Linked DNA regions of Homo sapiens. The protein of the gene in region 1 purifies or fractionates together with the protein of each later gene. This does not show direct contact. Each region holds a gene or a part of one and is shown on either strand. Other genes may lie near its edges.

What was found.
Region 2: the proteins of KANSL3 (region 1) and PHF20L1 purify together in Homo sapiens (affinity purification with mass spectrometry; 2 studies listed by BioGRID and IntAct, with this or other methods). This does not show direct contact.

What each region holds. Positions count from the first base shown.
Region 1 is NC_000002.12:96,602,399-96,618,439, reverse strand, and holds part of KANSL3 (KAT8 regulatory NSL complex subunit 3), read left to right. Parts: intron 1-2,895; exon of another isoform or gene 2,896-2,948; intron 2,949-4,820; coding exon 4,821-4,952; intron 4,953-5,505; coding exon 5,506-5,622; intron 5,623-5,876; coding exon 5,877-5,978; intron 5,979-6,086; coding exon 6,087-6,158; intron 6,159-7,301; coding exon 7,302-7,376; intron 7,377-7,556; coding exon 7,557-7,714; intron 7,715-8,877; coding exon 8,878-8,941; intron 8,942-9,375; coding exon 9,376-9,576; intron 9,577-9,775; coding exon 9,776-9,932; intron 9,933-11,392; coding exon of another isoform or gene 11,393-11,470; intron 11,471-12,902; coding exon of another isoform or gene 12,903-12,928; coding exon 12,929-13,120; intron 13,121-13,576; coding exon 13,577-13,661; intron 13,662-14,059; coding exon 14,060-14,190; intron 14,191-15,577; coding exon 15,578-15,687; intron 15,688-16,041. UniProt on the Homo sapiens protein: Non-catalytic component of the NSL histone acetyltransferase complex, a multiprotein complex that mediates histone H4 acetylation at 'Lys-5'- and 'Lys-8' (H4K5ac and H4K8ac) at transcription start sites and promotes transcription initiation.
Region 2 is NC_000008.11:132,765,921-132,782,057, forward strand, and holds the start of PHF20L1 (PHD finger protein 20-like protein 1), read left to right. Parts: upstream 1-9,467; 5' UTR 9,468-9,725; intron 9,726-10,018; exon of another isoform or gene 10,019-10,079; intron 10,080-11,871; 5' UTR 11,872-11,908; coding exon 11,909-11,991; intron 11,992-16,137.

The DNA.
Region 1 (16,041 bases):
GGCAGGAGGATCGCTTTAGCTCAGGAGTTTGAGACCAGCCTGAGCAACATAGCAAGACCTTGTCTCTACTAAAAATAAAATAATTAGCCAGGCATGGTGGCACACGTCTGTAGTCCCAGCTAGTTAGGAGGCTGGTGGGAGGAGGCTGTAGTGAGTTCAGTCCCACCACTGCACTCCAGCCTGGGTGACAGAGGGAGTCCCTGTCTCTAAGAAAGAGAGAGAGAGAGAAGAGAAAGAACCAAATCAATCCAAGTTGTCTGAGGCCTTTTTTTTTTTTCTTTGGAGACAGGATCTTCCTCTCTCACTCAGGCTGGAGTGCAGTGGCACTATCATTGCTTGCTATAACTTCGAACTCCTGGGCTCAAGCAATCCGTCTGCCTCAGCCTCCCAAGTACTGGGACTAGAGGTGTGTGCTACCACCACACCCAGCAAAGAAATTTTTTTTTTTTTTTTTTTTGAGACAAAGTCTCACTCTGTCGCCCAGGCTGGAATGCAGTGGCACGATCTCGGCTCACTGCAACTTCTGCCTCCTGGGTTGAAGCAATTCTGCCTCAGCCTCCTGAGTAGCTGAGACTACAGGCGTGTGCCACCCCGCCCAGCTAATTTTTTTTGTATTTTTAGTAGAGATAGGGTTTCACCATGTCTCGATCTCCTGACCTCGTGATCCGCCCGCCTCGGCCTCCCAAAGTGCTGGGATTACAGGCGTGAGCTGCCGTGCCCTGCCACACCCAGCTAAATTTTTAATTTTTTTGTAGAGACGGTCTTGCTATAGGCTCGTCTTGAATTCCTGGCCTCAAGCAGTCCTCCCATCTTGTCCTCCCAAATTGCTGGGATTACAGGCATAAGCATGATTCAGTTTTTGACACTTTTTTTTTTTTTTTTAATAGTTTTACTTTCTGCTTCACAGGAAGCTGGCTCATCTTGCTGCTGTAAGTTGCCTGGCCAACACGTTCCCTCAGCCACATCCCCAAAACTTGCAGACTCATTGTTTCTTATGTGTTTTTAAGTTAAAGGGTGCCAAGTTTGTTAGAAGACTGGTTTAGTGCTGAAATAAAACTCAGGACTAGATACATTAATGATATTCATGGTAGGAAATTTGACACTAGTTTTTTTGTTTAACTAATACTTATTTTGGGCCCTACGTGTGTCAGGTACTGGGGTGAGCAAAACAAAACTGGTCCCTTCTCTGGTGGAGTGTATTTTCTAGTGAAGAAAGAGACAAATGAAAAGGGAGTCCCAGACTTTCCCCTGTACTGCTCCCCTGTAGTAGAAACCCTGGACCCGGGAGGTGAGTGGTGGGCAGGTAGAGTGTGGGGCCCAGACTGGATCCTGGCAGACAGAGAGTGGTGGCCCAGAAGTATCGTAGGCATCTTCACATATGTTCTCCTCAGCATTCTACCTACGGTAAAAGTGTAACATTGGTGAATACACTGTAGGAGATGAGTGTTGGTAGTGGCCAGGGTCTCAGTTCTCTGGTGACCCTGCTTCACTCACTGTGGCTAGCATAATTTCCCTTTAAGGAGGAATTTGTACTGCTGCCCTATTTAAGTTACTGACTGGACATCTCCTGGGTGCATGTCGGATATTATGAGCATGGCAGACCACTGGGGGGACTCCATAGCATGCATAGTTGGGTGTTTTCCTCCCATGCTGCTGGGCCACGGTGTGGGTTGACTGGAATAGTGGAAGGCTCGCTGGTACACCAGTCAGCAAGGGCCTCAGACTCAAGGCAACATCCTCTCTGGGCTGTGCTCTCCGCAGTGGTTCCTCTGCCATCGGACTCTTATTTTCCCATGACTATATTTAGATTCACAACAAATACTTTGGTTGTTTCCCAAAGGATATAAATGATTATAGGATTGTTTTACTTTTAAAGTGCCTGCTGGATGTGAAAGCGCAGGTGGATGGGATCATGCTCTTCACCCAGCTACTTTCACTATTAGATCCATTATGATAAAGAGGGCAGAGAAGGTATAGACCTTAGCCTTTTAATTGGCTGTTGAGAGTGAATGCAATGCTGGAAGGGCCAGGGAAGCTTGGTCTTCCCAGCTCCAAGTGGAAAAGTCAGTATTGATTTTTTATCCCTTGTTGACAGGAAGCAAGTGTCAAGGCTTTTTGGTTTCAAAGCTATATACTACTGTTAGATAAAGCTTAACCCAGGGTCACATCCTTTGCCTCAAAGTGTTGAGTGGCTCACAGTTCTAGAGTGAGTTACAAAGAACATGAAGATCCTTTGCAGTTTGGTCTTATCCTTTGCGGTTTGGTCCTATCCTTCCTACTGGCTTTTTACATCCTCCTCCTTCCTTACTTGCATCCTTGACTTTTGTCCATCTGTGCCTGGAATAAGCTCTACACATTCTTGCCTCTTGCTGGTGTCTCTGATGGGAAGGCTTTTCTCTCATCTTCTGTTGGAATCCTGCCTGTTCCAAAGAGCCTGTCTCATTTCACATGCTGTATCTTTAGATGAAAATTGCCTCTTAACTTCTTCTCCATTGGGTGGTTTGAATCATAGCAGTTTGGGCTTCTGTTTCTTTCATGGCAGTTATCGGTCTTTCCCTATTCCTGTCCCCCACCATTATTTGTGTGTTTGTCTTCCTTACCTCTTGTAGATTAAATTCCTCTGCAGTACTAGCCTGGTACCTTGTAAAAGCAGTTGCACGAATATTTCTTTCCTGAGTTAAACTGAGAAAGTCTAATGGTTATAATTCTCTAATTTCTCATACAGAAATCCTTTTAGTGTCCCTGTTTTTAAATTAAGAGCAACTTATCTTCTGCTATTTTTGGAGTTTTACAACTTGCATCAAACCGTAGTACTTTTTATTCTCCAATTTTTCAAAACCTTTTTCTTTCTCTGAAAACTGCCTCTAATATTTAAACATTTTTCCTTTCCCCTAGGTCATTTTGACCTTTTGTGGGTAGCATGGAATTCGCAGATATTTCTTCTCAGTGTAAGCATCAACATGTCTGAAACCTATATTTGCACATCTGTAATGTCACATTTCTGGTAGATAGTAAAAAACAGACATGAGATAAAGTACACTGTATATAGTATAGCAGGATATATATTTTTGTACATAATAACAGATTTATTTAGTACACCACAGCTTGAAGGCAGTACTCTAGAAGAAAATGGAGATTTAAAAATATTATAAAATCAACTGATACTCATTGAGGAAATTTAGGGAACATAGAAATCTGTAAAGGAAAAAGTCACCCATAAACTCCATAGAGATCATTATTAACATTTTGTCTTTTTTTTTTTTTTTTTTTTTTTGAGACAGTCTCCCTCTGTTTCCCAGGCTGGAGTGCGGTGGCACACTCTTGGCTCACTGCAACCTCTGCCTCCTGGGTTCAAGCGATTCTCGTGTCTCAGCTTCCTGAGTAGCTGGGACTACAGGTGTGCAGCATATTTTCTTTAAAATATGATTCTATTATATTCATTGTTTAGAAATCTGTTTTATCCCACTTAATGTATCTTTTTTTATTTTTTTAATTTTATTATTATACTTTAAGTTTTAGGGTACATGTGCACAACGTGCAGGTTTGTTACATATGTATACGTGTGCCATGTTGGTGTGCTGCACCCATTAACTCGTCATTTAGCATTAGGGGAGTAGAGATAATTTTTTTCTTTTTTTCTTTCTTTCTTTTTTTTTTTTTTCTTTTTTTTGAGAAGAGTCTCACTCTGTTGCCTAGGCTGGAGTGCAGTGTCATGACCTTGGCTCACCACAACCTCCACCTCCCGGGTTCAGGTGATTCTCGGACCTCAGCTTCCCAAGTAGCTGGGATTACTGGTGTGCGCCACCACACCTGGCTAATTTTTGTATTTTTAGTGGAGACAGGGTTTCACCATGTTGGCCAGGCTTATCTCGAACTCCTGACCTCAAGTGATCTGCCCACCTTGGCTTCTCAAAGTGCTGGGATTACAGGCATGAGTCGCTGAGCCCAGCTTTGAGTAGAGATAATCTTTATATTTTCTATTTTACCTGTAACATTTTAGCAAAATTATTTCTGTGTGTTATTATATATCCTTGTAAATATTTGAAAGCTGGGTGCAGTGGCTGATGCCTTTAATCCCAGCACTTGAGGAGGCTGAGGCGGGTGGATCATTTGAGGTCAGGAGTTCAAGACCATCCTGACCAATATGGTGAAACTCCATCTCTACTAGAAATACAAAAAATTAGCTGGGTATGGTGGTGCACGCCTGTAATCTCAGCTACTTGGGAGGCTGAGAAACAAGAAATCGCTTGAACCCGGGAGGCAGAGGTGGCAGTGAGCCAAGATCAGGCCACTGCACTCTAGCCTGGGCGACAGAGCGAGACTTTGTCTCAATAAATAAATAAATTCTTGTAAATATTCGAAAATAATCTTTAATATCCAATTAGGTAGATAGTTGACTAAACTACTCCCTTACATATGCACATATATATTAAATTGTTTTTACTTTATTATTATTCATAGTTAATTTGTCTCTGTGCATAATTGTCCCCATCCTTTTGTGTGTGTTTTTGTTTCTGATACGTTTTCTTTGGAAAGGTTCTCAGAAGTAGAAACATTTGGAAAAGGGATGGGAATACATTTAAGTCCCTTGCTGCATATCCAGACTGCTTTCCAAAGGATTGTACACATTCACTTTTCATGGTGGGAGCATACTTTTCACCCGCTTATTTATATATATTCTTGATCCTTAGGAGGTTTTCAGAGGCTTAGTTGAAGTCTGTCTATGGCTTATAGTGGGGCTCTGTTCTTCTGCTTGATTGCTGGTGGTGGAAGGTCTCCTGCTTTACACTGGAGTCATCTTTGCTCTTTCTTCTTTGTAGATCCCAACCTTGATTGACCGGATGCTTGTGTCATCCAACACAAAGACTGGGGCTGCAGGAGCTGAGGCCTTGTCTCTCCTACTGAAGAGGCCCTGGGACCCTGCTGTGGGTGTGCTTTCTCATAACAAACCAGTAAGTTGGATGGCTCAGGACTTAACAATGGTACATAAAAATTTTAGACTCAAGCCTTAGAACCTTGGCAGGAGGATAAATGGCTTCTTTAACTATTTATTATTATTATTATTTTTTGAGACAGAATCTTGCTCTGTTACCCAGGCTAGAGTGCAGTGGCACGATCTCAGCTTACTGCAACCTCCACCTCCTGGGTTCAGGCAATTCTCCTGCCTCAGACTCCTGAGGAGCTGAGATTACAGGCATGCACCACCATGCCCAGCTAATTTTCAGTAGTGACAGGATTTCACCATGTTGGCCAGGCTGGTCTCAAACTCCTAATCTCAGGTGATCCACTTGCCTTGGCCTCCCAAAGTGCTGGGATTGCAGGTGTGAGCCAGCATGACTGGCCAGCTTCTTTAACTATTATTAATAATTTATTTTACATAGTGCTTAACATAATTTCACAAGCAAAGGAGCATTGGTTGGGATGAGAAAGGTATTGGGATACTTGGAATTTCATGAAAGGACACTTCTCACTCACTGGTTTTTGGGTGGGATTCTTCCTCTTTAGAGCAAACTCCCTGGCTCTCCGCTGATTCTCATCGCCTCCTCTGGTCCCTCCAGCTCTGTGTTTCCCACTTCACGCCGCCACCGCTTCTGGCAATCTCAGCTGTCCTGCTTGGGCAAGGTATGTGTGGGGGCAAGAGGAACTCCTTCCTGGCAGGGAATATAGTCTTGGAGGATTGAGGAGAAGAATATGTGGGAGGAGGTCAAAATGGGTAACTTGAATGTGGAGCCTCCTCTAACCCTTCTTTCATGTGGAGCCTCCTCTAATCCTTCTTTCATGTGGAATTCCAAGGTTTTGGGTTTAGGTTAGGTTAAACAGAATTGAAAGATTTGAAACTTACCTCTGCTGGTGTGGGGGCTACTTCTTTCCTTCAGGTCATCCCTGTAGCCACCCATCTGCTGAACAATGGCAGTGGGGTAGGAGTTCTACAGTGTCTCGAGCATATGATTGGGGCAGTGAGAAGCAAAGTGCTGGAGGTGAGAATGCCCGTATTTCAGTACATTGTGGCATACCCAGCATTCTGGGGTTGTTCTGCACCTATCTTTGGCCTCCTGTCTTACTGTCTTCTTTCTCTTCCCATGAAGATTCACAGCCATTTCCCACACAAACCCATTATCTTGATTGGCTGGAACACAGGAGCTTTGGTGGCCTGTCATGTAAGTAATTTCTATCTTATTTGGAGGTTGTCCTGGGATGGAATACCACTAATCATAGCTACCATTGAGTCCTTTACTGTGTGTCAGGCTCTGCGCTAGATACTTTACCTATATAATTACATTTTAAACTGTAGAAGACAAATTTTATTAAAACAATTTTTAATTTATTTTGGAAAACTTTAAGCAGAAACAAAAGCAGGTGTAGTATAATAAACCCCCGGATCCTCACCCAGCTTTACCAGTGATCAACTCTTGGCTGGGCTTGTTTCATCTCACCCTGCTCATTTTCTTTCTCCCCTAGATTGTTTTGAAGAAAATCCCAAATATAATAGCATTTTCACATACACACACACACACACACACACACACACACACACATATGGGTATATATCTGTGGAAAAAAAAAAAAGATCCCTTTTTTTCTCTAAACATAAGTACCATACTGTTCTCCCACCTAAAAAACAACAGTAATTGTAGCTGGCAAATATTAATAGCTCTGGAATTTGATGCTGTGTTCATTTCAGTCTTTTTCCAAGACATCAAGGAATCTTTTCGTATTTTACATATATTTGTATGTCTGTCAGTTTGTGTAAGTGTCCCTCATGTCCAAACCCTTAATTTTGCTTCATGCAGTCCAATCAAGTGTGATAGCTATGAGAGGAAGAAGGTCCCCATAGTCCCTGCTCCCAGGGTGTTAGGCCTTAGCAGTTTGCTCCAAGAAATCTAGGCTGTCTGGTAGCTATCCATTAAGTTCAATAGAGAGAATTTTTTTTCACTTAAGGGTTAATGGCAACATTGTGTTCTCTTGACTATATTTACTATTTGTGGAGAAAAATGGAGCAGGAGGGCTCTAGTTGAGGGGGTTGACAGGGTAGGAATACTGAACCTTCTATCCTATGGTTCAGCCACCTGCTGGGGTCCTCTTAGGGCCCCAGTTCTCTAGGTAGTGGCTGCTTATGGAATGACATACCTTGTGTCTTGTGCTCTTACTGCTGCCATTGTGGCAGAAGATGCACCCGGATATTAGGACAGGAGAGGAAGAGGTGAGACTGTCTGGTGGGTCTGGACCACTCCTGGATTCTGGGTAGGCTGAGGTGCCATGAACTCAGTTGACGTTTAGACAAACTGTTCTGTTATTTACAGGTGTCAGTAATGGAGTATGTCACTGCAGTTGTCTGCCTTGGGTTTCCTCTGCTTACTGTGGATGGCCCCAGAGGGGTAAGAATGTGGTAAAGCTGAGTGCTGGGTCATTGGCAGTGGGAGCGCGAGTGTGCATGCCTTGTCCAAGCTGATGCTGAGGCTGACTGCAGTTGCATGGCTGATCCTCCTTAGTGGAGTTTCTGGGTCAGTGCTTTGTGAATATGAAGAAGCCGATTCTAAAACCTATACCTGTTTTAGGATGTAGATGATCCCCTCTTGGATATGAAGACTCCAGTCCTCTTTGTCATTGGTCAGAATTCCCTTCAATGTCACCCTGAAGCCATGGAGGACTTCCGGGAGAAGATTCGAGCTGAGAACAGCTTGGTGGTGGTTGGGGGAGCTGATGACAATCTCAGGTGGGTGGATTCTCCCAGAGCTGCAAGAGAGCTGTGTTACAGTGTTAGAGATAAGCCTGGAAGCTGGCAATGTAACTACAGACCAGTCTGGTTCAGTTAAAAGACAGCATTAGCCGGGCGCGGTGGCTCACGCCTGTAATCCCAGGACTTTGGGAGGCTGAGGCAGGCGGATCACGAGGTCAGGAGATTGAGACCATCCTGGCTAACACGGTGAAACCCCGTCTCTACTAAAAATACAAAAAATTAGCCAGGCCTGGTGTCGGGCGCCTGTAGTCCCAGCTACTCGGGAGGCTGAGGCAGGAGAATGGTGTGAACCCAGAAGGCGGAGCTTGCAGTGAGCCGAGATCCCGCCACTGCACTCCAGCCTGGGTGACAGAGCAAGACTCTGTCTCAAAAAAAAAAAAAAATTAAAAAAAGACAGCATTAAAAAAACCTTTTTTAATATTTGAAATTTCAGATTTATAAAAAGTTATAACACTAGTACAAAACAATTCCTATATACCCTTCACCTGATTTTCTAAATGTTAAACATCTTACATAGCCAAAGTGTAATTCTCAAAATCAAGAAATTAACATCTACATGATACTGTAATTTACAGACTCATGTTTCATCAGTTGTTTCCCTAATGTCATTTTTCTGGTCCAGCATCCAGCCCAGGATCACACTTGGATTTAGTTGCCATGTCTCCTCAGTCTCCTTTAATTTGATAGAGTTCCTCCATCTTTGTCTTTCACGACCTTGAGCTTTTTTTTTTTTTTTTTTTTTTTTTTTTTTGAGGTGGCGCCTGGCTCTGTCGCCTATGCTGGACTGCAGTGGTGCAATCTCAGCTCACTGCAACCTCCGCCTCCTGAGTTCTGGATAGAGTTGATCTATTAAGCTATAGGTATAGGAATTCTGGAGCGGACTGTCCTGGGCACTGTGCTTGGTTTCTTTACATATGTTATTTTGTTTAATCCCCACAACTCCATGAATGGGATGTTATGATTCCCCATTTTGCAGACACGGAAACAGGTTCGGAGAGGTTGCATTACCTGCCTAAGGCTAACATGGCCCTCCTTCTGGGGCTAGAAAATAAACAACCCAGAAAAGAAATACGTTCTTATTTTCATAGGATGCCGTGCAATGTGTAAGAAGTAAACATGTCATCCTTTTTGTTTCTTAGAATAAGCAAAGCAAAGAAGAAATCAGAAGGGTTGACTCAGAGCATGGTGGACAGATGTATTCAGGTAAACAGTTGTTTTGTGTGCTTTTCTCAGCTAGGCTTGCCTTTCTGTAGCCTTTTAGGTTTGGTCTTATTGGTAGTGGTCTCTTTGGCTCTAAGGCCTCCACTGGGGCCTCTGGTAGGTCTCAGTCATAAGCAAAGAAAAGAAAAATGAGAGTGGTGAATTAATGTAAGCAAAGCATCACGGGGGAGAGTGTTGGAAAAGTGGTGGAATGTGACCACCCCAGAGCTCCCCCTGACAGAGGCACTTGCTGGTCTTCTTGAACCACAGTTGCTCAGAAGCCTGGGATTTGCGCCAGACCTTGTTTGAGTGGGGAAGGACTGGCACATGCGGATGCCAGAGCTGAGGGAGAATCTGTTTTAGTTGGAAAGTATATGAGAGGTTCCCATTCTCCAGATGAGGACTAAAAGGCCTTGGTTGGCTCCTCTCTACACTAGGATGAGATTGTGGACTTTCTGACTGGAGTGCTCACTCGTGCTGAGGGTCACATGGGCTCTGAACCTCGGGATCAGGATGCTGAGAAGAAGAAGAAGCCCCGCGATGTGGCCCGCAGAGACTTGGCCTTTGAAGTCCCTGAGCGGGGCAGTCGACCTGCCTCCCCAGCTGCCAAGCTGCCCGCCTCACCCTCAGGCTCAGAGGTAGTGTGAGCAGGGAGGGAGCGCTTTTGCTGGGGAATCAGCACCACAGAGTTGGTTCCTTAATTTCCTGGGGATGCCTCTGTCTTATTAGTGCCATGGGCCTGTGAGTTCCTACAAGGGGAATTCCAGAGGGACATGCTGACTCATGGTCAGATCCTAGTAACATTGTCTCATCTCTTGACCTTCTCACCTTACTCAGGATCTCTCCAGTGTGTCCAGCAGCCCCACCTCCAGTCCCAAGACCAAAGTGACCACAGTGACCTCTGCCCAGAAGTCCAGTCAGATTGGAAGTTCTCAGCTGCTGAAGAGACATGTGCAGCGGACAGAAGCTGTGCTGACCCACAAACAAGCTCAAGGTATAGGCACTTGGCCAGTGGCTCCTCTTGGGTCTGTCTTCTGTAGTTCATGTCACATGGCAGTTGCACAGTATTGATATCTATGGCTTTTTTCAGGGGGATGTGAGAGGCGCCCTTTCTCACATTTCTGTGCAGGCAAAATTCAAAATTAATTATTGAAATGAATGCCAAGGCCTCTGAGTTAGTGGGGCTTTGTGATCACTAGTTATAGCTTTGTCTTGCTGTTCTGGGGAGGCTAGGCTTTATGAACATGTATATTGGCCTAAACTTTTTTCTACCTTGCCAGCCACTCCTCCAGTCGGGGCTCTCCAATCATATGTATTGGGTGATTGATTTTATTAATCAGATTCTAGGGTAACTCACCTGGCATCATGCCCTTTCTTTGTTTGACCCTTGAAGCGTTAAGATTCTCACACTGAGACTTTCAGTGAAGTTTATCAGGGTTCTCTGCATACAGGTTTCAGATGAAGCTGGGAAGTATTCCTATAGTCGAAAGTAAGAGTTTGGTGAGCTGCGAGTGCTATGAAAGGAGCTATAGAAAAGGGAGAGTTCATTGGGTAGGGAAAGAAGAAACAGTGGTTCTGTCCCCCTTCCCCCACATTGATCCAGTTGGGTGGCCTTGAGGTAAGGCCTCTTGGGCATTGGTGTTTAACGATGTGTCCAGGAGCATGTCACCTGAGCTTTTCAGGAATAGGGGTGCCTGGGAAGAGGCAGCAGCCAGAGCTGGCTGTCTGGCAGACAGACGTGGAGGGGATAGGAGGCTCATCTGTTTACTTTCCCTGTGTTTCTTTTAGTGGAGCCAAATGATCAGAACCGAAACCCAGACCTCTTGTGAGTTTGCTTATAAGAGTAGTACTAACAAGGAGTAGAAGTGTGAGTGGATGGGAGGAGTTGAGAAATGAGGCCAGGCCCCAAGGGTCTGCGCGGATGCTCTGCCATGGATCTTCATGAGTGGTGGCCAGAGCCAAGTCCCGTGTGGACAGTGTGTCTTTACACTTCTGAAGAAGACAGAGCTGGTGGTCTGCTGTGCTTCTGCAGAGGGTGATTAGTTGAGAATCTAAGGAGTTTGGAAGGCTGATTGGCGAGCTGGGTTTGAAATGGGGATCTAGGGTGTCATGGGGGAGAGTAGCAGCTTTAGAACCCTGGCTTAGCAGAGCTGATGGGCAAACGGGGAATACTAATAGCGAACATATATGGAGTCCTTGCTGTGTGCCATGCCTTCTTCATGGCACTCGCATTGCTGTAGTTTGTTGAGTTTTGGCATGGCCCCATGAGGCAGATAGTACTATTCAGTTTTAGATGCTTCTACAGACTGACTCCGTGGCAGAGTCAGGTTGCCATGCAGTAATTTCAGAAGGAGCCCCTATTGGCCATTTTCTACAACCTTTTTTCTTATTCCCTCTCTTTTTCTCCCTTCTCTGGCTGGCTGTGATTCTGTAATTCTTTCTGATTCATTCCAGCACAGTTTGCTGCTTTTCTGAAACAAAATATGCTGGTGAGGAAAGCTCTTCCTCCTGGCACCTCCTCCTGTCTCTTTGGTGAGTATTACTCTTTCTTGCCTGCTCGTCCACTACATTCTGCTCCTCAACCCCTTATTTATTTTCCATCTCTGCCTCTCATCTGCCTCAGTTTGGTTTCCTCCTGTTCTTTTCTCTCTCTTTCTTTGTATTCTTTTGTTTTGCTGACCCCTTTTGCTTACTCTGTAGTCTTTGCCCTTTTTCCATTCTTTTGTTTGCTTCTCATGGTGTTTTCTTTTTTGTCTCTTAGTGTGGTTCTTTCTTTCACTACGGTCTTGGCTCTGCTGCTTTTTTGTATGTCTGTGGCATTGCCTGAGTCTCAGTTTCCTTGTGTGTTTTTCTCCCTGCCTCCTGTCCTGTGTTTATCTGGTGGCTACAAGCCTACCAGCCACATATCAGCATAGAACCTGAAACTCCTTTCCCCTACACCCTCCTTCCTACTCTGATTTTAGCCAGTGCATTTGTCCCCTAAGCAATCCTTCTAGCTGGTTATGTCCTGACTGTTGCCTCATGCCAGGACCCCTCCTCCCTCCTCATGTGACTGCTACCTTCCTCCCCACACCAGTCTTTGCTTCCCTGTGCTACAAGAGGACTAGGGTGGACTTCTGGGTTTAAAGAGGAGGGAATCTTTGAGGAAGCTTGAAAGATAACCTAAGAGTCCAAAAAGCTTGGCTGTATACATGATGAGCCTGTTTGATTCAGTGGAAGTGGAAGCCCATGTGTGAACAGATGGCCTTTGTCTGTACTAGTACACATGACCTGGGGACTAGGTTGTGACATGGGCCAGTGTTGCCCTGTTACTTTTGGGTGGGAGCCGTGAGGTTGCCTGGTTGAGGTACTCTCTCTCCTAGTAGCTACTCATAGCCAGCTTTTAGTCCTGGTGACACTCCTCTTCATTGCCTCCATTTGGCAAGTGGATCCTCAACTGTGGGCTCTTAGGGCAGGGTGGGACTCTTGAGAGCCTTTGGAAAACTCTACTTTTTAGAGAGGACTGGATGACCTGCTCCTCCATGAGTTCTCATAGAATGTTTGATGTCTCCAACTGTGTGATGATGTGGGGAGGGCTTCAGACAGGAAGATGATCACATTTTTTGAGTCTGAGAAGGACTGTTTACTCATTCTGTTGAATCCTCTATTTTTGTTGTTGTTGCCATTGGCCTTGGCTAGGCAGGGTCAGGATGTCTTCTGTCTTTTAATTCCTACCAACTCAGGGCCCCTTCTCTTCCGATTCCAGTGCAGGATGAGGGATGAGAAGGGTGCCATCCTCTAAGAAGGGCAAAGTGGGGTCCCCCACGGACAGGGCCTGAGTGAAGTGGTCCTGAAGCATGGGCAGTCTCCTTTGAGGGGTGGCCCTGTACGTAGAGTGGTTATCCTGTGTGTTCTACATTCTACACATGGCTGTGTTGGTGCTGGTATTGACTGAGTGTCTGTTGGGATTTTTTGGATTGTGGAGGATCTCAACTCAGCTCCATGTCTTAGTTCCCATTTCATCAGAACCACCAGAGGAAGGAGAGAAAGAGGATCTTAGGGTTCAGCTGAAGCGACACCATCCCTCGAGTCCCCTTCCTGGCAGTAAGACCTCCAAACGACCGAAGATCAAGGTGTCCCTTATCTCCCAAGGGGACACAGCTGGAGGGCCTTGTGCTCCTTCCCAAGGAAGTGCTCCAGAAGGTGAGTTTCTCTTGGTACGTTAAATGAGAACTGAGCTCTCTCAGGTACACAGCATTGCCCTTTGGTGGCCATTCACCAGCATGTCAGCCTTTGCTTTATTTTGAGAGATGCCCGGAGCAAAGAAGACATGAGTCTGTACATGTGGGTAAAGTTGGCATGAGTCCATCTGAATGAGGACCAGGCAGGCAGAATATGAGAGGAAGCTGTGCCATCGTTCAAAGCATCCTATATTTTGTTCTTTTTTTGTTGGCTTCAATTAAAGGTACAGAATATTTCAGGAAGTTTAGAAAATAGAAGGAAAAAATAACCCCAACTCTCCCTACTCTAGCATAGTTCATCTTTTTTCATTTTCCAGTTTTCGTCCGTAATATCTTGCATTTAGCCTAAGCTGTGGAACCTGGAAACATAGAGGCCAAATAGGACTGACCAGGGGCCTTGGGGTTTTCTGTTTTGAAGCTGCAGGTGGGAAGCCCATCACCATGACACTGGGGCAGGCTTCAGCAGGGGCCAAGGAGCTCACAGGACTTCTCACCACAGCCAAGTGAGTGTTTATTGGACCATCTGTGTCTATTCCTTTTTTCCCTTCCCTCTGTTTCTGGTTTATTTAGTGCTTTGGAAAATGATGGATTCTGGATTCTTGTCAGTTTTGGAAATGTGACTTACTTCTGATTGGGATCTTTGTCTTGCTTTTGAGTCAACCCAGAGTTCACTTTTACTTAAGACTCCAAATCGTCCCCTGGCTTTTGCTATAAGTCCTGTAAGTAAGGACTTTTAGAAGACTAGAGGCCAGGTACAGAAAGTGGGACAAAGAAGCTGAAGGTTTTTGGTGTATGTCTGCTGCTGAAAGCCTTGCTGGGCCCCACTCTGTACCCTGCCAGTGTTGCTAGGGCTTGCTGTCCTGTGACCTTTGGATAACAGAGCTCCTTCCTTTGTCTCCAGGTCCAGTTCTTCTGAAGGTGGAGTCTCAGCCAGCCCAGTCCCTTCAGTGGTCTCCAGCAGCACTGCACCCAGTGCCTTGCACACACTGCAGAGCCGCCTGGTGGCCACATCTCCTGGCAGCTCCCTCCCAGGTATCTTGTGGCCCAGCATTCTCCCCTTCCAACACAGAATTTTTGGTCTGCTGCTTCTGGGTGGTCCTGGGAAAGCATCCCTGGAGCTAAATCCATAGGATGGGCCTCTGGGTCTTAGAGTGATCATAGAGGCTTGACGTGAAGCTGGAATTAGCTTGGGCAGAGGGATTCCTTGGCCTTGAATAAATGCAGTGAGTAAATGTCCTGGTCTGCAAGTGAGTAAATGTTCCAGTCTACAGGTGCTGTATCCTCTACTGTAAGGAGAAATAGCCGATAGGACATATATGTATAGTCAGCCTTTCTTATCCACAGGAGATTGGTTCTAGGACCCTCACCACTACCAAAATCCATGGATGCTCAAGTCCCTTATATGAAATTATGTCATACCGTTGGAATTCTATATCCACAGGTTTCTATCCGTGGTTGTTTGAATCTGCAAATCTGCTGTGAAGCTCACAGATAATTGAGAGCTGACTGTGGTTTTACTTTGCTGTTTTAAGCACATCTGCCTGAATAAAACTGGAAATGGTGCTACACTGGGCATTAGCAAAATGAGACATTTTTCTGTCTGTGCTTGTCTCTCTCTTTGTCCTACCCACTAACCCTACTTTGAAAGGCCTGTTGCCTGAGCCCAGCAGGGCCAAGGCATTGCAGAAACCCTCTCCTGGCCAGGCATGGTGACTCACACCTGTAATCCCAACACTTTGGGAGGCCGAGGTGGGTGGATCACCTGAGGTCAGGAGTTTGAGACCAGCCTGGCCAATATGGTGAAACCCCGTTTCTACTAAAAATACAAAAAATTAGCCGGGTGTGGTGGTGGGCACCTGTAATCCCAGCTGCTTGGTAGGCTGAGGCAGGAGAATCGCTTGAACCCAGGAGGTGGAGGTTGCAGTGAGCTGAGATTGTGCCATTGCGCTCCAGCCTGGGCAACGAGAGCGAAACTCCGTCTCAAAAAAAAATAAAATAAAATAAACCCTTTTCCTTTAAGAGAACCTTTCTTATTGCTTTGAGGCTACTTCCTTACTGCTTTGATTGTGTGAGGCGAAGTGAAAGTTGGATATTTATAATTCTTTTGGCTTAAAAAGTTCTTCCCTGGAAAGAAAGGAACAAACTTGGATTTCTCAAAATGGTCTAAAATGTATGACTGATGGTTTGCAGCAGGTGCAGAGCAAGTCCGGGGCAGTGTCTGGCACAGTACCTTTCCTGTGTGGCATCCATTGCGTGTGTGCCTAGTTGGGGAGAGCTTCCTGCCTTCTCTCTGAGGACGGGTGTCCAAGGGCAAGCACCACTGGTGTTTTAGTTGGTGGTGAGGGTGGATGGATGTGGCTGCTCTCGGGATAGTGCAAGTGATTGAGTCTCTACTGATTCCTGCTATGTCCTCTCTTAGGGGCCACATCAGCCAGCAGCCTCCTCCAAGGCCTCAGCTTCAGCTTGCAGGATATCAGCAGCAAGACCTCTGGCCTTCCAGCAAATCCCTCCCCAGGACCAGCCCCACAGGTGCACATCTGCCATCTGCTGGGCTGGGCAGGTGTAGGGAGGAGGCCTCCTCAGCTTAGTTGGTTTTGGCAGGGAAACTAGGTCTGGAGTCAGTGGATCAAGGACAAACAGCCTTCTAGCTACATAGCAGGGAACTTACAAAAGTTAAGGTCTATCATTTACTGTGTGACCTTGGGCAAGTTTCTTGACCACTCTGTTTTTGTTTCTTTGTCTATAAAATGAGGTAATAATAGTACCTCCCTCATAGAGTTGTTATAAGAATGAAATAATATATGCAAAATGCCTGGAAGAGTACCTTGCATGTAGTAGGCACTCAATACATGTTAGCCTTTAATAATATGCTGTGGGCCCTCC
Region 2 (16,137 bases), on another chromosome or scaffold:
TGGGATTACAGGCACCCGCCACCAGCTAATTTTTGTATCTTTTAGTACAGATGGGGTTTCACCATGTTGGCCAGGCTTGTCTTCATCTCCTGACCTCAGGTGATCCACCTGCCTCAGCCTCCCAAAATGCTGGGATTACAGATATGAGCCACCGCACCCTGCCGAATCTAACATATCTTGACCTGTGTTAACTGCAAGTTGGCTGTAGCTTTGCTCCTTGTGCCATCATTCCTGGAGGCAGTACCCCTTGTGAGGGACTTCCCTTTCTTGCGGCAGAGGGAAGAGAACAGGAGGGCTGTCAGAAATACATAATGGCTTTTAAAGCTTTTCAGAGCTGACATCTGAAATTTCTACCCATATTTCCTTGGTCAAAGCATATTGCATGGTCAAGTTCAATGCCATCAGGATAGGGAAGTACACACCTCCAGGGGGAAGCACTGTAAGTCATAGGGTGATGGGTAGATGTATATCAGAAGTACATGGGGGGCGGGGGGGAAAGGAAGAACTGGGAATTGTTGTATAATTTACTACAGCCCTCCACATTGGTCACAAATATTTAGATTCCTCCTTTTTACTTTAAAAAAAAATGCTGTATTCAGCTAGGCACGGTGGCTTATGCCTACAATCCCAGCATCTTGGGAGGCCGAGGTAGGCGGATCACTTAAGCTCAGGAGTTCAAGACCAGCTTGGGCAACATGAGGAAACCTTGTCTCTACAAAAAATAGCCAGGTGTAGTGGCTTAAGCCTGTGGTCCCAACTACTCAGGAGGCTGAGGCAGTAGGATCATTTGAGCAAGAGAGGCGGAGGTGGCAGTGAGCCAACATTGCGTACCCTAACCCGGGCAACAGAGCAAGACTCTGTCTAAAAAAAAAAAATAAAAATAAAAAAGATGCTGTTTTCACTTCATCTTTCCAGAGAACACGCCAAAATCTTATTTAATCATGGCAACAGACTTCCAGTCCAGAATCCCATAATAATCTCTACATCAATGTGGTTTCTCTTGATACAAAGACTTCTAAAACATCTTAGCCTGTATGTTCAACATTCAATACCAGAACAGAGATGGAGTAACTTCCATCAAAACTTCTCCTATTTAGCAAAAGAGTAATGGGGCTATTCTGAAACGGAATGATCAGTTTGATCAGTTGTTACAAAAGCCTTGTACCCTGTGAATAGGGAATGTTCCTTGATAGAGCTCTAATTCTGCTCCTCAGGGGTATTAACTCAGGCAACTGTGGCTCTTGTTTCTGCCCTCTGGAAAGTAAAAGTATTCCTTTTCCATTACTCTCCTCGGCCTCCTCTGAAGATTAGAGAATATGCGTTTCTTGGGGGCAGAGCAACCTTCTCAACTTACTTTCTGCTTGTAGAAGTTAGCAAATGGGAAGATAACTTTGAAATTTTTAGTTGTCATAATCTCTTTGATACCAAGCTGGTACCTCTTTGACTGTACATTCTATTCTAAGAACATATCAACAACTTTTCATGCATTTGATTCCAGTCAGCTTCCTGTGTCAATATTCATGCTTATAATTGTTTTGAGACATACCTACCTCTTTGGTTTTTTTTTTTTTTTTAGATAGAGTCTTGCTCTGTTGCCAGGCTGGAGTGCAGTGGCACGATCTCAGCTCACTGCAACCTCTGCTTCCCGGGCTCAAGCAATTCCCCTGCCTCAGCCTCCTGAGTAGCTGGGACTACAGGTGCGCACCACCATGCCCAGCTAATTTTTTGTATTTTAGTAGAGACGGGGTTTCACACCATGTTGGCCAGGATGGTCTCGATCTCCTGACCTCATGATCTGCCCGCCTTGGCCTCCCAAAGTGCTGGGATTACAGGTGTGAGCCACCGCGCCCGGCCTAGCTCTTCGTTTTTGACTGCTAGCAGCTTGAGCTTATTGGACAACCTGTTGCTTAGGCATCTGTCCTGTGTCGGGTGAATAATTCATGGGCATGTCTCTGAAGAACTTTCAAACTCTTTAGCTTTATGAGAAAAAGATTATGTTGGCGGTATGAGTTGTGATGACATTGCGAGATCACAATGCCATTAAGCAATTATGTTACTTATACGTAATATGGGGGTAGGGATGGGGATTACATATACTAGTATTTAGAGAATATGACAATAATTAAATTATAAGTGATGTACTAAGAAAGGACACAGAAATCAGAAAAGTGGCCAAACAGGCTAGATTTGATTTATTTAAACTGACTCACCTCAATTTCCTTGTAATAACACTGGAATAGTTCATGTCCAGGTAGTGATAGAGAATGAGATTTTGGATGCTTTGTCCTGCTTTTTAGAATCTACAATTTCCACATCGTTAAATTCATTGTAGTACTTTCATTATTTGCCTTTAGATTTGATTTTCTTATACTTGGTGTTCTCAAATTTCCTTTGGTCACAAATATTTACATTCCTCTCTTTTACTTTAAAAAATGTTGTGTTCAGCAGGGCACGGTGGCTTACGTCTGTAATCCCAGCACTTTGGGAGGCTGAGGCAGGCAGATCATTTGCTGCTAATGTGTCTTTTTAGGATTTATAGGATATTTCCCGCAACTAGAATTCTGTCCCTCAAAAATGCTATATGTATATCCCTACTGTTTGCTCAGGGTTCATTTTCAATTGTAGCATTTTTTGAAGACAACATAGTTATAAAAAAAAAATAGGAGAGAAAAGAAGGAAAACCAAAGGGTGTTTCTCCTCATTCTGGTGAAACTGGCTCTGTTGAATGTTTTGCAAAATCCAAAAGAGGAAGTAATCCGATACTTGACCACAAGGGTGTGTTGCCTCAATACTTTGACTAAGGCAAACCACGAGCTGTGCAATGCTTGTGCTGACAAATTATCTGCCCCTTCCCTGCTCCCTCTCCCTCCTGCAGAAGGGGAATTATTTCATTTGAATGTCCACAATTACCTTGGAGATAGTGTTATTGCTTTCTGGTCCTGGCCAAGAGGCCAGACATTTAGACAAATTGTGAGTGACCAGTTAGAGCCCAAATGCTGACCCTGCACATTCTTCCACACTAACACTTACAATGTATTGAAGTTATCTGTTTGCATGTTTGTCTACATGTCTACATTGTTAAATGTCTTAACAATGATCAGGAATTAAGCTTATCCCTTATGCTCCCTGAAACTAGTGCTGTGTGCTTGGCACACCACAGATGTTCAATAAACGCATGTGGAAAAGAAATGGAAGTAGAATATTTTCATTTGTCAGTTCTTGAATTGAAACTATAAAGAAGTGTAAGGCATTAATAATTATAAAGTCTGCATAGAACTCTTATTTGAAGCTTACTCATCCTTCAAAGCATATTTTGAATGTTTCTTCTTCTATGCTGTCTTTCTTGATTTGTCGAGTCAGAATGACCATATTCCAATAGTATCTTTATTTCAAAATGATTTATATTTAGCTTCATATTGTGTTTAGTTGTTTCTGTATCCATATCTGCATCATGACAAGTCAACTTTGAATGGGTATCTAATTTTATTTTTCTTCCTGTTCCCTTACTCTACATCACCCAGTCTCTAGCATTAGGTAAGAATTCAAAAAGAGTTTGTTGAGTGCTGTGAACTGACTGTGTGTGTCTCCCTGTCCCCTAAATTAATATACTGAAGCCCTAATCCCCAATGCAATGGTACTTGGAAGTGGGGCCTTTCGTAAGTAACTATGTAATGAAGGTTGAGCCTTCATGAATGAGATTAGTCCCTTAGAAGAAACATGAGAGAGATGATCTCTGTCTGTCATGTGAGGACACAGTGAGAAGGCAGCCAACTGCAAACCAGGAAGAATCCCAGGCACCAAATCAATTGGCACCTTGATCTTGGACTTCCCAGCCTCTAGAACTGTTAGGAATAAATTTCTTTTGTTTAAGCTACCCAGTCTCTGGTATTTTTTAAATAGCAGCACAAACTAAGACATTAAGTGATTAAACAAATAAATTAATGATGAATGAATGCATGCAAATAAATGAATATTGCATGCATGCATGTATGTTGTCTGCCATATTTCAGGATGCCACTAAATTGCTGCTAGCTCTGTTCTCAACGAAAAGAATGATCACTAAGAGAGTAAAAGTATTCACCATTTGGTGACTGTCAATTTGTATAGCTGCTGTGTTCTGTTGCTCACCCTCTCCTGCTGCAGTTTTAACAATCCACGGAAATGGGGATTGTACGTTGTAGAGACTATCTCTAAAATCAAACACCTACAGATTAGGAATGTGAATGTTAGGTCAATCTCTCACTAGATTTGTCTCTCATTTGGCTTGGTTTTCTAACTTTGCAAGCTAGGAAGAGAATTCTCAGCTTTGTTGAATGGCTGTAAATTGTAATTTGGAGTTACAGTTGTGTTGAATATTAGTTATTTTGTTGTCCAAATTCCAGTCTCTTTCTTTTAAGTAACAGCACTCGAATTTTGCATTAAAGAACCCACTCATTCCCATCGCTCAGTCCACGAGGTTTGGACCAGTCTTCACGCTTACCTGCCTGATAGGAATAGGAACCCAGTTTAAGCCGAATCAGTACAAGTCATCCCCATGGCCACCATACTTGGTTCAGATTTAGGCACCTAACTTTATCTCAGCCAGTGAGAGAAAGACTCCTAGTATTTGTTTTTACGGTCGCCAGGATGCTGTAATGTCTTAAGCTGTTGGGGATCCCCAGAATCAAGCTAAACCTTAAGAAGTAGAGTGAAAGATGTTATAATTTTTCACTGAATCAAACTCACACAGAAGGCAGACTTATTCCTTATCTTCTATTAACTCCCCAAACTGAAAAATTCCCTTTTTGCTTAAGCCTGTTTTCATAAAATTTTCTGTTACATGCGACAAAAAGAATCCTCACACACTGCGGGTCTGAATATTTCATGTACGTATGAATTGTTTAGGGTAGCTTGCTAAAATGCAGATTTCCAGTCCCCAAACCTAAGATATAAATCAGGGCCCAGGAACTTGAATTTTATCAAACAGTGTTGCATTTTAACAGACCATCTTGTTAAAACAGTGCCCCTGAGCCATATGCACATCTCCATAATGCAGATAATTGGCAGACCAAAGCTTGAGAAATACTGATATAGTTAATGCAAGAGACACTAGTTAACAATGATAAAAATCAGGAGAGGTGCAAAGTATCACATAGCAGCAGGAAGCAGAGACCATCCTTTGTCCTAAATCAGAAATGTGAAAATCCTTTGCAGTATCACGAGTGGATTCCATATTCAATGTACTTCTATTTATAAAATCTTTACTAATTTCTCATGATTATTTCTTCCTGCTTTATGTGTCATGACCAGATATCTCCGTTTGTCTGGAACTGTCCAGGATCCACCTGTCATTCTGGTATAATTATTAATAGCCCTTCCTTCCATTCTCAAAAGTGTTCAGGGTTGGATGATAAATTTTCTGTTCACTCTCTTGCTTCATGGTAATCTGCACACACACAAAAGAGTTCTTTGTCTCTCTTGCTGCATTTGCTGAAATAGACATACATATTTTTTCTATTTTATGACCCTTAGTAGCAGAGACTTTGATATCTTAGAATCATTATTGCCAAGCCTAAAAGTTTTAAAAATCTCAGAGATCCATGTGGCTCTGAGTAACATGTAAACTGAGTAACACATAAACTTACATATATACATATATATCAAAGTAATATATATTACTTCAATATTATGTACTTTGTATTTATAATATATATGTATTATTATTTACTTTAATAACATCATATTTCTTTATTTTATTTGTATATATAAGTATGTTTAAAGTAATCTGGAACACCCTATCATCCTTAGAGTTGGCTCATTCTAAGAAAGTGGAATATAAACCTACGAATCACAGTGAGGAATACATTAGAGAGGTGAAAAAAATGCTGCGGGAACACTGGGAGAGATGACATCTCTGCCAATTCATACATGGCCTAGAGCTCCTATTGCCAGGGATTAATTCTGGAATAACTATAATTTCTGTTCAGTTGATAAAGGGATATGGTGACAGAGGAAAGATAAGTGAGCTCTTTGGCAGGTGAGGAAAATGATGTCAGTGCTATTTTCAAAGATTTTTATGCACATGGAATGAAGAGATTTGACAGAGGCTATCACAGTAGTTTACGTTTCTGCTAAACTAACCTTAAAAAAAACTTGAACTGCTTTGATTTTCTTTACTAATGCTAATTGTAAATATTAAGTAAACACACAAAAAATAGCTATCTTGTGTTTTATTTGTAATCAAGGAGTATCTGGTATTTAGTAGTAACTTTTTTTCCTACCTTAAAATAGGTATACATTTGTTAAATATTCCAGGAGACATTATGGTTCCATATTCATATTTTTAATGTTGGAGGAATTTAGTTCAGTGATTTCTGCCTAACAACTGTTGTTTCAAGATAATTTGCTCACTGCTTGTTTGGTTCTGCTCAAACACAGCTGTAAGTTCTTTCTTTCTATATTTGGAGATGGAGTGACTGATGGCTGGGCATCAACCATCTGGAACAGGGTGTGCTGGGTGGAAGAGAGGAGAAGGGACAGATCAATGCACGGCTTCACTACATGGCCAGGGAGTCAGTACTAGAATTTTGTATATCCTGTATCCCTACTCTGATCCTGACCTTTGACTCTATGTGGTTAAAAGAGGAAATGACATCCTACCTGAATTTTTTGTCAGTTTTATCAGGCTTAGTGCCTTCCTTTTAGAGTCAATATTATATTCACACCCTCTCCACTTCCCAAAATTAACTTCATAAATAACATAACCAAGCTATACATATATACTTAAAAATCAATATGACTATGATAATATAAAAAATTTATGAAAATAATTCATAAAAATCATATATATTTCAATACTTAACATTCATCCATGTATCACAGAAATATATAATGAAGTAGTGAGGTGCTTGTATCTAAATTTAGATTTCCCTAAATGTAACAGCTACGCAACTAGACTGACACAGGTGCATTCTATCAGTGCCTCAAATACTATGAGTAATTAGCCGTTGGTGGCATGATATTTTAAAATGAGATAGACTCTTGATAATGTTCAGAAAAAAGGTCAGTGTTTCCTTACATTACACAGTTGCTTCATTCCTGTAAAATTTAATGTATATTAAAACCTTCCAAAAATACTTATATGTGAAATGCAGTTCTAGGCAGGGACAATTATAAACAGGTTTTTCACCTACATGAATGTCTGGAAGGACATCTAGAAGTCATGCATGACCTGGGGCAATTCTTCAAGGTATGGAACTGCACTGTGCATTTCAGGATATCTAGCAGCCCTGGTCCCTTCCCACTAAATAGTAGCAGTGCCCTACCCCAATCCTGAGACAATAAAATACCATCCTCCATTTCCAAAGTGCCCTCTAGGGGACGGTATTAACTCCACAGAGGATTACTAAGCCTATACAATTCACTGAAGCTAGGGATCATTTACATAAGACCTTATTTTATTTTTTTCTTTCAAGTGTCATTATTGGAAGACCCATTGTCAAGTTCCAATTAAAATGGAACAATCATCTTTCCAGGGTGGATTCTCAACAAATAGTTGGGAGAATGGACAGAATCTGTTGTTCTTTATGTATGTATTTTATTTAAATTGCAAATAACCTCAAGTTTTTAGTGGTGTATAATAATAGATATTTATTTTTTCTCAGTCACTAGCTTGTGATTCAGCAGGGGTTCTGCCAGAGTTCAGAAAGATTTAACTCCAGGCTGACCATCAGAAACTTGAATACTGGTACTGCCACAGATGTGGGAGAAAAGTTTCCTTATTTTGAACATCATTAGCAACTTCTGATACAAAGTCCTTGGTAAAAGAGTTTTACTTGAGGCTAGAACTTTAGCTGCAAGGGAGACTGGAAACATGAGTTTCTGATATTTTCATCTTATTTAGTGGGAGGTTGATTCTGCATCCAAGATTCATAAGGTGGATGTATCATTTAGTTTGGGTAGGATTATGCCATGTAACAAACAATCCAGCACCCAAATCTCCATAGTTAAAATAATAAATATTTATTTTTTTCCTTATACAACACAGTAGTTGTAGATTATCAGTGAGGCCTTGGTTCATCATAATCTGTCTAGAACCTGGATGGTAGAGCAGCTATCATCTCAAGCAGTGCTTTACACTGTGCCAGAGACAGAAACTTTGGTGAGCTGGCATTAAAAATTACCAACTGGCCATGACAAATCTCACTTCTAATTACATTTTATCAGCCAAAGCAAATCAAATAGCCATACATAATTCTAAGGAGGGTGGAAAGTATAATCCTGTCATGTCCTAAGGAAGATGCTACAAGTATTTGGTGTTCTGAACTAATGCAACCATGATGAGAAATTTCTCAAACATGGAAAGAGAGTTGAGATGCTGGGCAACCAAAAAACAAGATAACAAATATCCACTAGAGACTGTCTTATTTATATCTTTTCTATAACAAATATCCACTAGAGACTGTCTTATTTATATCTTTTCTATGTATCACCATGCTCAGTCTAGCTCAGTAGCTATTAGTGACTTAGTAGATGCTGAATGAATGTTTGTTGAATAAAAAAAGAATGATTGTTTAATTTACCAAATCTTACTATAACTGAAGCTTAAAGAGAGTTACTTTGCTATTTTAACTCCACACTATGAAGCAAGATAAATATAAGTGACATTTGTATGCAACGTTGCACTTGAAAACCAGAGTGGTACAGTGGAAACCAAGAGAAAAAAGATGTTTCATTTCAATATTATTTTCAATGTGTTCACTTATTGGTTTCTCCCCACAGCAAGGATACTGTCTCCTGTGCTTAGTAAAGTTTGGGAGGGTAGGTATTCGATAAAAGCAGTTCTGCTATCATTAGCTGTGTAGTCTTGGGGAAGTGATATCAATGTAGCCATAGGTTAAGGTTATTCAGCTGTGCCTGAGCACGCGCGTACACACATCTTAGTAATATTCGTCTTTGTATTGTAAAGATCTCCAAGACTGGAAAGCAATACAATTGTAATACAGTTGTACAGTTGTGATTGTCATGTGACATATTTACAGCCTAGTGTCTATCACAAAGCATCCATTCAAGGGAGGTTTATTGATTTTGTAGTAGTAACCATGCTCTATTCTTGATGTGGAGTGGGATGGATATCTAAGAAAGCATGTAATGCATTTGAAAAAGTTTGCCAAGGGTCCTGGGTAAAGGGGTTTTGGTGACGTGGTTCCCAACGAATCAAGAATAATAAACAATGCCCTTCGTCCTCAAATCTCAAAGGTCAAATACTTCACAACTACCAATAGGCACCAAGAGCTCGCGTTCTTTCCTCCAGTAACCAGAGCCCCGCCCGCTAGCGGTCCGTCAACGACCGCAAAGCCCCGCCTCCTACGGCGGCCCGCCAATCGGCTGCGCGGCCCGGGCCCAACCCTCGTGAGTCACGTGACAAGGCCAGGCCCGCTTCCGGCACGTCGCGGGCGGCTGACGTCGCCGGGGCCCGGCGTCGCGTCAGGGCTGGCCGGCGGCGGAGGCGGCGGCGGCGGCGGCGATGGCAGCGGACCCTGAGCGAGCTTGAGGGCTCGGACCCAGCTCCCTCCCGCGAAACCTTGGGCGGATCCGGCGCTGCGGCCCCAGCTCGCTCCGCTCCTGCTCCCTCCCCGGCCGCTGCCTGGGCGGAGGCAGAGGCAGAGGCCCGGGCTGGCCGCCCTGCTCGTGCCCCAGCTCGGCCCCGGACGGCCCGGCTGCTGTGCAGAGAGGAGGCCGAGTCGGTAAGAGGCGGCGGCGGCTGAGCCGGCAGGCCGCCTGGCCCCCGCCGGGCCGCCCGGGACGCCCCCATTCTGGTGTCTCTCTTTCCGGCCCGCTCCCCTCCCGCCTCCCTCCCCGTAACTCGCCGGCCCTATTGTCTGGGCGCCGCAGCTCCCTCTTCCCCTCCCTTCCTTACCCCCCTGCGGAGGGCCGGATGGCTGTCAAACCTGGAGGCTTCTCCAGCTCCCTGCCAGCCCTGTCAGCCTTTCCTGCCTGTCTCGTGCCACCCCCTCTCTGTCTGGCCTCACCTCCTCACCTTTTTTGGCCTGGCGGTCATTCTCTGACCATTGCTTTACATTGTCGGTCTCTATGTCTTCTTGCTCATTTCTTCTTCCCTCTAACTTGTCATCTCCGAAAACTTCCACTGTCCTATTTCTTGCCATTCTTTGCTCCTTTCCTTACTGTTTTTACTCCTCTCCGTGCTTTCTGCCTTGTTTTTGCTTCAAGTTTTACTCCCAGTAGACTGTCTTACTTTATGAAAGTTCCTTAATTCAAATCCCTCTTCATCCTTCCCTCTTCGAACCTAAGACAAAGGAAAATCTTGTTTTTTTTCTGGTACTTCATCCCTAAGTGTCACTGGGGGATTATACTCATTCAATCCATCACTTAATTATGGGCTCTAAGTTTGATTCTAGATGTTAGTGTACCTTGTGAACTATCCCTTACTGAATTCTTCCTGTGACAGACAGCAGAAAAGGTTGATTCGATTTCTACACAAACATTTAAGTAACTGCCTTACGTGTTGCGCACTGACAAGACCTCTATTAAAAATATTCATACATTTGTTCTTTTGCACCAGCTACACCCTGGGCAAGCTCCCTGTTAACTTTTTAATGCTCTAATATTTGCTTATACCATAGCAGGAGGATACCCACTCTCCCCCTCCAACCATGGGTATTTGAGTTCGCATATTTTCATGGCCAGTATTGATGCTATTTTTTCCCTTACCTATCAGACTCTTTCAAAGAGAAAAGAGGGAGCAGTTGGAATTTTATGTTTGTTGTTCTATTTTGTCTATTATGAATTGTGACAAAACCATTATAAAAGATGACAAGTGTGTGTGTTTCTTTTTTTCTTTTTAAACTGTAGGGAACATAGTCATTAGTGATCTCAAATACCGAAAGACATTTTACGGATCTCTCCTCGCCCCTGATAACAATCAATTTACATTCTTAATTATGAGTTATGTTTTGATTAGGTTATCTCAAAATGTATTCATATTCCTCACATACCCATTAGTGAAAAAGAGGCCACCTCAAGTGTGCTCGGTGGCCACTGTGGCCCAAAATATAGTACTTTGCATGTGAATGACCTAGGGATACATAGGTACTCCTTTGCAGTTTTTGTTCTAGCATTACAACCACTTTTATTATCAATGTGGACACTGTCTAAATTGAAATATAGTAGAAATACTCAGTTAACAAAAGCATGTTATTATTGCTTGTTGAATGTAAAGTATAAGAAAGCAGTCTCTTTTGTAATACTGTATGTTAAATTAAAATTATTGAATTATGTGCTACCAAGGTGGGAGATCATGGGTAATGAAAAATCCTAATCCCAAGAGGAATTAGTGGTATCTTCACTGGCAGAGGAGTGTGCCTACTGTTTCCTCCATCTTTGTGTGCTGTAGGGCCTTATCTAGTGTTTTGTATTATGAGGCACTCAACAAATATTTGTTGAAATTAAAAATTGATTTTGTTCTCAAGAATTTCAGTAGTCCTATTCCAGAACACTCAGCTGTCTTAATTTTTCAAAGGCAGGAAAGCATTTTCAGCTCTCCCCGTGGAGAATTTTCTTGGGTATCTGGAAGCTCAAATGTAAAGCATTTTTAGCTATTAACAATTTTTAACAGTCCATTTACTCATTCTTTTTAGATAGTTTTCTTTGTTCTTTTTCTTAAATCATTATCAAGATTGCCTGCAGATTGCACAGAACTTTATATAGAGATGTTGGTAATACTCCTTCAAATTTCTTAACAATTTGGCAAGTATTTCATATTCTCATGTATTGTTTTAGAAATTCTGTTTAATTTTAATTTGACCTGTTCCCTTATACTCTACTTCCTATGCATTTTCTGCATTGGAATCTAACTTTTTTCTTTCTCTTGAGGTAGTGAAAAGAGAATACTGAAGAATAGGATCTCAAGATGAGTAAAAAGCCCCCAAATCGCCCTGGAATCACTTTTGAGATTGGTGCTCGTTTGGAGGCACTGGACTACTTACAAAAATGGTATGGAAAATATAGAACTTTCACCTAAATATCACAATATCTGTAGCCTTACATATGTTAATTAAAACAGTAAATTCCACTGATGGTAGCAGAAACATCAGTGTATTCACATTTCGATTACACATATATGTTGTTTTTTAGTTTTCCTACTCTTTAGGCTTTTTAGGTTTAGCATTTAAAAACTATTTTTAGTCAACTGACTAAATTATTTAGAACAATCATTTTTGGTGTTTGAGAAATGAAAATAATTGTCTAGAGTATGCGGTTTATGTATACCTCATGTATACCTCACATGAGCTGTATTGGTGGAAGTAGAGAGAGGAGTAATCCAGAGAACCAACTTCTCATGTTTTGGATAAATTTTGATTTAAATTGGTATTTTTGGTCTGTCAGTGGTAGTCTTTCAAACTACAGAGTATATTAATGGTTAGCATAGCATTTTTTCATAGTGAACACTTTCAAAAACATCTCCACTATTCATTATCTCACCTAAAACCAAAATCACACTTAACCTCCTATTTTCCCTGGTGGGCCTTAACCTAAAGGCAGGTTGTTACTGTCTCCAGTGCAAAATAGGCTGTCCTTTCAGAACTTGTGTGTCTCCCCCTATTCTGGCCATTGTGGTAAGTGGTAAATTTAAACACCTCCCAACATAGCCTTTATACAGTGGTTAGGAAAAGTTGATGAATTGGTATAAAACTACTATCTGGAAAGGAGAGAAGGGGAAGCTACATGCAGGGGTCCCTGGGCCAGAGTAGGAATGAGGAGGATTCTCCTTTCTCCTAAGGAGCGTATTCCTCATTTGGGTTAACTGGCCCCTCATTCTGCTGTCTTGGCAGATGTCTTTTGTTGCCATTTGCAGGCTCCTAACCTGAGAGGGGCATTAGAGGGGTTCCGCTTCTGGGAGGGATGCTGCCTTTGCTCCTCCTGAAGCCCGTTTATTTTGATGCGAGTTCTTGTTTAGCAGCTCTTGGACTTTCCCAGACTTTTTGACATTTTCTCTGATTTAAAACCATACTGGGCATTTTGTAGATTTACTTTTGATTGATTTGTATTAAGTCAACTTCCCGAGTTGGCAATGGCAGGCAGAGAAATCTTGTTTAGTCATAATATTTGACTGTATAGACCAGGCTGGGGTTTCTCTCTTTTAACATCTGGCGTTAGAGCTTGGCACATATCTCTGACCCCAGCTTAATGACCTCTTGTTTTGAGCTCCACTTTAGGACAGTTTGAAGCTACAATTTGAGATGGGGAGGTTAATCGATACTGTCACTAGGTGAAGAATGTACATGGTAATTCTTAGGAGGGGTTTGGGAAGTACCTGGGAACTAGGCAGTAGCATCTCTCCTAGTGACGATCAAAATGTCTCCAGACATTGCCAAATGACAACTGGAATGAGGGTGGGTGGCGGTAAAAATGATTGAGAAACTCAGCATTAGACCATGCAACAGAAAATGCCAGTTGAGGCAGCACTTGTCTATCTTGGTTCTCATTTGACCAAGAGAAGCTTTTTACTCCAAAGGCATACTACTGAATGTCTGTGTGATACAAGGGTATAAGAAATAATACTTGTTACTTCTTTGATATTACTCTTAAGTGATTTATTTATTTTTTAAGTTACTGACTTTGTGACTTATTTAATTCATATTAATATATTAGGCTTCCCAACTGACGGTGTTGCAGTTGAGCTAGCTTCCAGTTTTGGAGAAACACATAGTTGATTAGTTCTGTCAGTAATTTTCAGGGATATTAATATAACTTTGATATTAGTGAGAAATTTTCTTTCAGTAGTAAAATGTTTTCTAACTTAGGAGCTGTTAAATTTATGATCCAGTAGTTCAAAAGACTACAAAAAAGAACTTTTAAAACCATGCTTGAATGTACTTTTAGAGTATTCTGTGTTTTTAGAATACTTGGAATTTCAGAGAACAAATGAAAGTTGTATCTTCTTGCCACAAAATTCATATGTGCTTATTTGAGCGGTGTCATGCAAATGTACTCACTGATGAAGTTTAGATTTAATTTTAATGACCCTGGTAATAATAGTTCTCTTTAATGGAAATAAGCATTAGCCAGGATAATCACATATTATCACTGAAACTTGTTATCAGTTTTATTTTTATAAGCTGATTTATATAAAGATTTTGGCACTCTGTTTCAGGTGGCTCCTTATTTAAAAAAGGATTAAGAATATTGTATATATGTATTCTAGGTAATTTACAAAAATAATTTTCTTATGGTAATTTTGCTTATTAATGTCAGTAGTTTCAAGAACTAGTTAGGCTTAGGTGCCCCTTAAATTTAGTATTAGGTGGTGTGCTCTTGGACCAACTATTTAATTACTAAGATGTATTGAATTTTATATGGGACACAAAAGTTCTGAGATTAGTGCTCTTAACATTTTATTTATAAATAGGATAATAAACTTAATTCTTCATATTATTCCATTTGTAAATGACCATTTTACATTTCATGGAAATTCTGTAAATTTTTGCATTAATATTAAGTAAAATTATAGAATTATTTGACAAGAAACTGACATTCTTGTGAGAAGCAAAATATTATAGTTAATCATTGAAAATATACAGAAATTTCTTTTCTCCCTCTTCTCCCACTCTTCTCTTTCCCTTCTTTCATATTCTATTTTTTGCATCCATATTGAATGCTTAGTCTTCCAAATTTATTCAATTCTCTTTGAAAAGTATTGAGTCATCTTTGAGATAAATGTAGTTTGAACTATTATGGGCATTGGATAGGGAGGAGCAGGAATGCAAATCTTGCTTACTGTCTCTATACTCAAAACATTTACAATAAGCAGTATATTACTGAGAAACTAACTTATCACATGTTGATAAATCACCTTTTGAAGAGAAGTGCAAAAGGAAAGTGGTGCTAGTGAAGAACCCAAAATGCCTATTAAAGGTTTTTCTTGCTTTTTTTTTTTTTTTTTTGAGACAGAGTCTTTTCTGTTTCTCAGGCTGGGAGTGCAGTGGCGTGATCTTGGCTCACTAAAACCTCTACCTCCTGGGCTCAAGCTATCCTGCCACCTCAGCCTCTTGAATAGCTGGAACTACAGGTGTGCACCACAAGTCTGGGCTAATTTAAAAAAAAATTTTTTTTGTAGAGATGAAGTGTCACTGTATTGCCCAGGCTGGTCTGGAATTCCTGGCCTCAAATGATCCTCCCACCTCAGCCTCCCAAAGTGTACTCCTGGCTGGTTTCTCATATATAAAAAAGGAAAATAGTTTCTGGTATGTGTCTAGACATAAAAGGATAAACTCTAAATTTAGTAGGTGGAAATAATCTGAAGTTAAGCTCTCACTTTTAGCTTTGGGGTAGATTTGATTTAACAGGAAGACTCAATCTGTGTTTCTCAGGAAAAGTATGTTATTATTGCTTGAATAAACCATATCGTATAATTCTTACAGATCAGAAAGATACCTTATCTTTGAAAATGCATTGTACCTTTTTAAGTAGTGATTTATTTATTTTTATTTTATCTTATTTTATTTATTTTTTTGAGACAGAGTCTTGCTCTTTCGCCAGTCTGGAATTCAGTGGCGCAATCTTGGCTCACTGCAACCTCCGCTCGCTGCAACCTCCGCCTCTCAGGTTCAAGTGATTCCCCTGCCTCAGCCTCCCGAGTAGCTGGGACTACAGGCGCACGCCACCATGCCCAGCTAATTTTTTTTTGTATTTTTAGTAGAGATGGGGTTTCGCCATGTTGTCTGGGATAGTCTCCATCTCTTGACCTTGTGATGTGCCTGCCTCAGTCCCCCACAGTGCTGGGATTACAGGCGTGAGCCACTGCGCCAGGCCTAAAGTAGTGATTTATTTTTATTTTCAAAGTAACTTTATAGCTACATAAGAACACTCATTGGTGGTTTATTTATCAGTACTAATGGACACAGGCCCTGAGAAGCCATCAAGAGGTCAGTCATCTTAGTCCCAGTATTTGCTTTTTGATAATTGGATCTCTCCTACACTGACCAAACATAACTCCTGAGTAGTGTGGGCTGTTTTAATTTTTAAAAATATTATAGCTTTACAATATTTTAAAAACATTTTCTTTTAACTTTTTCAATCATCTGCATAAAGACTTTGACGTGCTAATGTTTACAGCTAGCACAGTCAACTATTTTTTAT